Linked DNA regions of Homo sapiens: regions 2 and 3 are each linked to region 1. Evidence: fine-mapped expression QTL. A gene starts in region 1. Each other region holds a variant in brackets. All regions are shown on one strand. Distances are from middle to middle.

The links.
Region 2: its variant is fine-mapped to the expression of ADGRL1-AS1 in whole blood (TOPMed, PIP above 0.99).
Region 3: its variant is fine-mapped to the expression of ADGRL1-AS1 in whole blood (TOPMed, PIP above 0.99).

The regions. Positions count from the first base shown.
Region 1 is chr19:14,135,955-14,138,710 of GRCh38, reverse strand. It overlaps ADGRL1-AS1 (ADGRL1 antisense RNA 1), which reads right to left and starts at 1,559. Exons shown (of 3, transcript NR_045214.1): 1 at 1,488-1,559. It overlaps ASF1B (anti-silencing function 1B histone chaperone), which reads left to right and starts at 2,122. Exons shown (of 4, transcript NM_018154.3): 1 at 2,122-2,363. The coding sequence starts at 2,255. RefSeq lists enhancers at 1,477-1,636, 1,133-1,759, 1,837-1,976 and a silencer at 2,307-2,356.
Region 2 is chr19:14,184,436-14,187,191 of GRCh38, reverse strand. All of the region lies in intron 1 of ADGRL1 (adhesion G protein-coupled receptor L1), which reads left to right. Among named protein-coding and RNA genes, the nearest start is that of ADGRL1, 20 kb to the left of the region's middle. The variant G/A (reference allele first, on the strand shown) is at 1,566.
Region 3 is chr19:14,095,809-14,098,564 of GRCh38, reverse strand. It overlaps PRKACA (protein kinase cAMP-activated catalytic subunit alpha), which reads left to right. Exons shown (of 10, transcript NM_002730.4): 6 at 675-801; 7 at 891-986; 8 at 1,082-1,204. Among named protein-coding and RNA genes, the nearest start is that of SAMD1, 6.4 kb to the right of the region's middle. The variant G/C (reference allele first, on the strand shown) is at 1,585.

The sequences.
Region 1 (2,756 bases):
TTGAATGACAAGAAGGCATAAGCCATGCCAAGAGCCTAGGAGAAGAGGTTCTGGGCAGAGGCTTTGCACTGGGAGTGGCTTGTCAGAATTTTAACAAAAAGAGGGTTACTTAGCCTGGTTTGAAGTTGGAGCTGGGTGGTTAACAGGAGACAAAGCATAGAGTTTCAAAGACAATGCTCTCATCCGGAGAAGTGACCTGGTCAAATGTGTTTCTGACCTTCGCTGTCCAGTAATACAGGAGCCACTTGTCACACGGGCTCAGGAGCACTCAACTGCGGCTATCAAGACAGCTAAACTGAACTTTCTTTTTTAAAATTTAATTTTAATTTTTAGAGACAGGGTCTCACTCTGACACTCAGGCTGGAGTGCAGTGGCTGGAGCATTCTGGGCTCAAGAGATCCTCCTGCCTCAGCTTCAGGAGTAGCAGACACTACAGGTATGCACTACCACACCTGGCTTATTCTTTTATTTTTTGTAGATATGAGGTCTTGTTATGTTGCCCAGGCTGATCTTGAACTCCTGGCCTCAAGAAATCCTCCATGACCAGCCTCTAAAATTACAAATAATAATAAAAAAAGATATGGCCGGGCACAGTGGCTCACGCCTGTAATCCCAGCACTCTGGAAGGCCGAGGCGGGCGGATCACTTGAGGTCAGGAGTTCGAGACCAGCCTGGCCAACATGGTGAAACCCCGTCTCTACTGAAAATACAGAAAAAAAATTAGCTGGTTGTGGTGGTGGGCACCTGTAATCCCAGCTACTCAGGAGGCTGAGGCAGGAGAATCGCTTGAACCCGGGAGGTAGAGGTTGCAGTGAGCCGAGATCGCGCCATTGCACTCCAGCCTGAGTGACAGCGCGAGATTCCATCTCAAAAAAAAAAAAGTGGCTTCCAAAAAATGTTAATTTTACACCTAATTTTGGTGCGCGGCTGGCATTATTTTTCCACTGGGCAGCACTGATCGCCCGTGGGGGCAGAGACTCTGAGACCTGGAGTCTCCCAGGCCGGGGGCGACGGCCCAGACGGGAGGCGGTGGAGAGAAGTTTCCGGATGTATTATGTGGTCATGAATCATGTCAGGGAATTGCCACGGCCCCCGTTGAATGGGGAGGCGCTGCCTCGGGCGCTGAGTAGCAGAGCCCGGACTCTGAACACTGGTCTGCCCCCGAACTGGAACTCCCATTTTCAGTACCGTCCGCTTGAAACCTCCCAAGAGCCCTCAAGGGGGCGAGAGAGGGATCCAAACCCCTCGGGGGCGAGAGCGGGATCCGAACCCCTCGGGGGCGAGAGCGGGATCCGAACCCCTCGGGGGCGAGAGCGGGATCCGAACCCCTCGGGGGCGAAAGCGGGATCCGAACCCGGCCGGATTCCCGAGGTCTGAGCGCGCCTCGTGACCGCCACTCCGAACGTTCGCAACGTTCACAACGGACTCCCGCGCCGCTGGACCTCAAGGGTCAGGAGCCACTCAGAAAAGCTCCAGGAAACGCTCACCTGTTGACAGACGCTGAGGCCGCAAACGCTCCTCCTCTCTCTTCACACTCGCCAACACCGCGGTGGCGCTCGACTTCCGCTTCTCTCCAGCGAATCCCCAGCTGAGCCTCCTTCTGCTCCCGCCACCATTACCAATCCAGCCAATAAACTCTCAGAAAACCCTCTTTATCTCCGCCCCACTCCCTCCTGCCAATCACTTCGGGTGCGAGCACCGCCCTTCCCGCCTTCTTTAGCGAGCGCCGCGCGCCACCGCTCGGCGGGTGGCGGCGCTGCGCGCTGCGGGATGCATCTCCCGGAAAAGCGAGGCGAGGGGCGGGCCACGCCGGTGCGGGAACCCTCAGGATTGGCCAGAAGGAGGCCGGCGCTGTGACTCCGTCCATTCCCGCCGTTGACATCCAAGTCGGAGACGCTGGGGATTGGTTTCCAGCGGACACGCTAAGAAGCTTGGAGATAGTTTCGCCCTCCTCACACGCTGCGGAGAGGGAGCTCCGCTGATTGGTCCGAGGAGTCTGGGCGCGCGCCGATCGGCGCTCCAGGACTGGCTGAGGGGGTGCGCGCGCCGCCAGGGAGCGTTGGCGGTGATTGGCCAGAGGGCGGAGGCCGGCTATTTGAAGGCGGCGCGCGGACTAGGTGCGCACTTCAGTTCTCGGAGAGAAGAGGCGGGAGTGGACCTGGTCAGCCCTACCCCACTGACCCCACCGGACCCAGGCGCGGCCTCCGCCACAGCCACAGCCCCTGCCCCTGCTGCGGCGCGGCGAGGCGAGGCGATGGCCAAGGTGTCGGTGCTGAACGTGGCGGTCCTGGAGAACCCGAGCCCTTTCCACAGCCCCTTCCGGTTCGAGATCAGCTTCGAGTGCAGTGAAGCCCTGGCGGACGGTGAGGCTGGGCCTGTGCGGGGACCCCCACCCCCGGGCCGACCCCGGCCTCCCCTCAGAGAACCGCTCCCATGGCCAACTTGATCTCCCCCATGAAACCCCTCGTCCCCCTTCCGCCAACCCCGATCTCCCCCAGCCCGCCAGTCAACCGGATCTCCCGGTGGAGACCCCCCGCCACCAGCCAACACGGACCTCCCCGTGACCTCCTCCCCCACTGCCCGCCTTGACCTCCCGGGTGGAGACCCCCCGCCAGCTAACTCGGACCTCCCAGTGGCCTCTTCCCCCACTGCCCGCCCCGACCTCCCCATAGAGATTAACCCCCTCCAAGCCCCATTTCCCGCGTGGGGAACCTCATCCATCTTTTTTCTCTGGAGCTCTTCCTAGGTACCCGTTT
Region 2 (2,756 bases), 48 kb before region 1:
AATTTTTTGGTATTTTTAGTAGAGATGGGGTTTCACCATGTTGGCCAGGCTGGTCTCGAACTCCCACCTCTGGTGATCCACCCGCCTCGGCTTCCCAAAGTGCTGGGATTACAGGCACGGGCCACCGTGCCCAGCCGTGTGCTGATTTGTAAGGGCCTCTCTCAAGAAGCTCGTGTTGATAAAAAGGTAATTTCAGGTGCTCACTTGAGAGCTGTGAATTAAAAACAGGGAAAAGGATGGCGGGTGAGGGCAGCAGGCGAGGACTGTTTTGTTTGCAGGGGGTCAGGGTAGGTCACTCTGCTGGGGTGACCTTGCGGCTGAGCCCTGAACAATGAGCAGCCGCAGCCGACATGCAGGGATCCTGCTTGGGGACTGGAACTGGAATGTTGAATGTTTCAGGAACAGGAGGGAGGACAGAATGGGGCTTGGAGAGCTTGGTGGCACCAGTTCACCCACAGCCTCTGGGCTCTAGTGAGGAACTGAGACCCCAGCAGAGACCAGGGGGTCAGTTAATGTTCGGATCAACATCATCATGTGGTCCCTTAGCTCTGAGTGAAGGGCGGATTGGGAGGCGGGCAAGGAGGCCAGGACAACATACAGGTGACATAGGATGGTGCATGGGCCTGGGTGCTGTGCTTAGAGCCAGAAGTGGGCAGGTCGCGAGGTACTTCAGAGGCAGAGCCCACAGGAGTTGCTGATGGCTTCCGTGAGGGGGATGACAGGGAAGGTGAGGAATCAAGGCAGAGTCTCAGCTTTGGGATCTGAGATTCATTCAACAAATAATTAATTCATTGCCACGTGCCAGGCCTATTCTAAAAGTTGAGGATATGAAGACAACAGTGGTGATGGCCTCACGCAGTAATCCCAGCACTTTGGGATGTTGAGGCAGGAGGATCTCTTGAGGCCAGAAGTTCATGTTCAGCCTGGGCAACATAGCAAGACCTCATCTTTGCAAAATAAAATAAATTAGCTGGATGTGATGGTGCATACCTGTGGTCTCAGCTACTAGGGAGGCCGAGGCGGGAGGATCACTTGAGCCTGGGAGGTGGAGGCTGCAGTGAGCCATGATTTCACCACTGCACTCCAGCCTGAGTGACAGAGCAAGACCCTATCTCTAAAAAAATAAAAGTAAATAAAAGTTGGGGATACGGCCACCATGAGCAAAACAGTTCAATGATCCCTGCCCCATGAAGAGGACATTCTATACACCAGGTGAATAGTTCTATCTGAGCAGAGGCCTGAAGGAGCCAGCCATGTGGACAGTGGGTTGGCAGAAGCTACAGGTGGAGGAAGCAACAGGTGCAAAGGCCCTGGGGCAAGGCCTGCTGTGGTCCAGGAATAGCAGGAGTGGCTGGAGCAGAAATGGGGTCAGGGAGCTAACTGGGCCAATTACAAGGGTTTTGGTTTTCAGCAGGGAAATGGTAGTGGGGGCTCTGATGAGAGATTCCAGGCTGGACATAAGAGATTTGAAAGTGCTGGCTCAATGATGGTACTGAGAGCCCAGGACAGCCTGAGATGGGACAGGCTGGGATGACAGCTGGATATGACAGAGCAGGGGTTCCCAC[G/A]CTTCAGGGCCTGCCTCAGAGAATGTGTGTTTCTGGCCAGCACAGTGGCTCACGCCTGTAATCCCAGCACTTTGGGAGACTGAGGTGGGAGGATCATTTGAGGCCAGGAGTTCAAGACCAGCTTGGGCAACATAGCAAGATCCTGTCTCTATAAGACATTTTAAAATTAGCTGGGCGTGGTGGCGAGAGCCTGTGGTCCCAGCTACTCGAAAGGCTGAAGTAGGAGCATCACTTGAACCCAGGATCTGGAGGTTGCAGTGAGCCGTCATTGTGCCACTGTACTCCAGCCTGGGCAACAGAGCAAGACCCTGTCTCTTAAAAAAAGAAAGAGAGAGAGAGAATGTGTGTTTCTACCAAGTTCCTGGCAAGGCTGATGCCAGTGTGCTGGGACCACACCTGGAGAACCAGGGTGTAGATAAAGCAAAGAGCTGAGGACAGACATTTGAGCGTGCAAGCCTGAGAGGATTTGGGGAGACTGAGGCGGGGAGAGAGGTGAGAAGGAGCAGCCATAAGGCAGGAAGAAACCAGTTAGAACCGAGTCCTGGACTGGGCACAGTGGCTCACTCCTGTAATCCCAAAGTTTTGGGGGGCCCAGGCAGGAAGATCCCTTAAGCCCAGGAGTTTGAGATCAGTCTGGGCAACATAGCAAGACCTCCTCTCTGCAGCAAATTTAAAAATTAGCTGGTGGTGCTGGGCGCTGTGGCTCACGCCTGTAATCCCAGCACTTTGGGAGGCCGAGACGGGCGGATCACGAGGTCAGGAGATAGAGACCATCCTGGCTAACACGGTGAAACCCCATCTCGACTAAAAATACAAAAAATTAGCCGGGCGTGTTGGTGGGTGCCTGTAGTCCCAGCTACTCGGGAGGCTGAGGCAGGAGAATGGCGTGAACCCAGGAGGCGGAGCTTGCAGTGAGCTGAGTCTGTGCCACTGCACTCCAGCCTGGGGGACAGAGCACGACTCCGTCTCAGAAAAAAAAATAAATAAATAAATAAATAAATAAATAAATAAATAAATAAAATAAAAATTAGCTGGTGGTAGTGGTGCAAGCCTGTGATTTCAGCTACTTGGGAGGCTGAGGTGGGAGGATTCCTTGAGTCTGGGAGGTTGAGGCTGCAGTGAGCTGTGATTATATCATTGCACTCCAGCCTGGGCAACAGAGTGAGACCTGGTTTCTAAAATTTAAAAAAA
Region 3 (2,756 bases), 40 kb after region 1:
GAGATTATGCCATTGCACTCCAGCCTGGGCAAGAGAGCGAGACTGTCTTAAAAAAAATAAATTAATCAAAAAAAAATATATATATATATATACACACACACACACATATCTACATACATACAGAGGTGAGGTCTTGCCTATATTGCCCAGGCTGGTCTCGAACTCCTGGGCTCAAGCGATCTTCCCACCTCGACCCCCCAAAATGCTGGGATTACAGGGGTGAGCCACCGCACCGGGCCGAATCCCTCTCTTGACACGTCACCTCCCCACCAAAGGCAGTTGTCCTTTCTGACTTCAAACACCGTGCCTTTGTTTTGTCTGGGCGTGGACATGATATAAATGGAATCATTCATGTTCTTTTGTGTCTTCTTTTGCTTAACATAATCAGTTTGAAATGCAGCCACATTGTTGAGTGGATGCATGGGCTGTCCTGTTGGCGGTGGTGGTGGTGAGTGGAATTCCATTGTATGACTATAGCTCAGTCTGTGATTCCATTTTCCTGTGGATGGACCCACAGGCTGTTTCCCATGTCGGGCTATCTAAGAATCAGGTGCCTTGCGTTTCTGACGGCTGGACTGGAGGTGTCTTCCTCTGGGGTAGGCTCTGCAGGGCCACCTGCTGGACCATTTTGGGGCATGACCACTGACGTTCACCTCCCCATTTGTCCCCATCAGTGAGCCCCATGCCCGTTTCTACGCGGCCCAGATCGTCCTGACCTTTGAGTATCTGCACTCGCTGGATCTCATCTACAGGGACCTGAAGCCGGAGAATCTGCTCATTGACCAGCAGGGCTACATTCAGGTGCCCACCAGGCCGGGCGAGGGGCAGCCCTGGGGAAGCCGTGGCCTGGACCCTTCCTCCCTGCCAACTGCCTGTTCTTGTGCCCACAGGTGACAGACTTCGGTTTCGCCAAGCGCGTGAAGGGCCGCACTTGGACCTTGTGCGGCACCCCTGAGTACCTGGCCCCTGAGATTATCCTGAGCAAAGTAGGAGCCTCCCCAGCCCTCCCCTTCCCCTGAGGCCGGCTCTGCTCTCCTGCTCTCGCCTCCTCCTCACCCTGTGCCCCCCCATCTTGCTCCAGGGCTACAACAAGGCCGTGGACTGGTGGGCCCTGGGGGTTCTTATCTATGAAATGGCCGCTGGCTACCCGCCCTTCTTCGCAGACCAGCCCATCCAGATCTATGAGAAGATCGTCTCTGGGAAGGTGAGGTCCGGATGTGGGGACACAGCCCTGGAAGAAACAGACCGTTCCCTGCTCACCCATCCTATTCCCTGGGGAGCCCTGCTTGTTGTCAGAATAATCTAGAAGTTCCTTAAGTCAGGCCAGGTGGTGAAGCTGGACGCGCCGGCCACACTGAGGCCAACACCTCAAGCCCCCTTGCTGTCCAGCCCCAACCCCGCGGTTCCAGAATCCCATGGGCTTCCAAAATCCCGAGCCTCACGGGAACATCTTGGCCACAGAACACAAACCGCCCTGCCAGACGACCCTCCTTTTCGCTCCTCATCCCAGTTAGTGTGAGTTTTCGCAAATTCCAAGGCAGAAAAACGAATGTATTTGGTTCCTGTTCCCAGGTGCTGTCCATA[G/C]CCTCACCCAGGATTGCCCTCACTTAGCATTTATAGCCCATGCTTCCTCTCCCAAACCCAGACTTGCCTAACTCTGAGGGTTCAGATGAGGGGTGGTGAAGCCATCTCAGCTCACATCTATGACAGGTGCAAAGTGCCCACCATCCACCAGGCCCCAGAATCCCCATCAGTCACACCCTGAGATAGTGGCACCCTCTGTAGGAGAGGTGAGGAAACAGGCTGGGAAAAGGGATGTGTCTTGGCCAAGATCACACTTTGGTGAGTAGGTAATCACCGTAGGCAATCATTGTAGGCACTGATGGCCGGAGAGAGGTTGGGGACCCCACCTCTGCCCTCAGCTCAACCACCTTGCTGGGAAGACCCGACCATCCCCCGACTTGGTCCAGCATCTCCTACACAGGAGCTTTTGGTTGGCCCGGAGTCATGACACTGTGGTGGGAGCACCCTCAGGCTCAGCCTGGGCCCCAGTCCCAGCTCTGCCACCGACTGGCTTTGAAACTTTGGGGCTGGGTACAATGGCTCACACCTGTAATGCCAGCACCTTGGGAAGTGGAGGCTTGAGGCCAGGAGTTCCAGACCAGCCTGGGCAACATAGCCAGACCCCATCTCTAAAAAAAAAAAAAAAAAAACAAACTGGCCGGGCGCGGTGGCTTACACCTGTAATCCCAGCACTGTGGGAAGCCAAGGCGGGCAGATCACCTGAGGTCGGGAGTTCGAGACCAGCCTGACTAACATGGTGAAACTCCGTCTCTACTAAAAACACACACAAAAAAAATTAGCTGGGTATAGTGGTGGGCGCCTGTAATCCCAGCTACTTGGGAGGCTGAGGCAGGAGAATCACTTGAACCCAGGAGGCGGAGGTTGCAGTGAGCCAAGATCACACCATTGTACTCCAGCCTGGGCAACAGGGCAGGACTCTGTCTCAAAAAAAAAAAAAAAAAAAAAAAACTAAAAATTAGCTGGGCGTGATGGTGCACCCCTGTGTTCCCAGCTCATCGGGAGGGTGAGGCAGGAGGATCGCTTGAGCCCAGAAGTGAGCTGTGAGCTGTGATTGCATCACTGCAGTCTAGCCTGGGTCACAGAGCCAGACCCTGTCTTTTAAAAAAATTCAGGCAAGTGGGGTGCCCCAGCTGGACACATAGCATCACTAAAAGAGAAAGATGAAGGCCAGG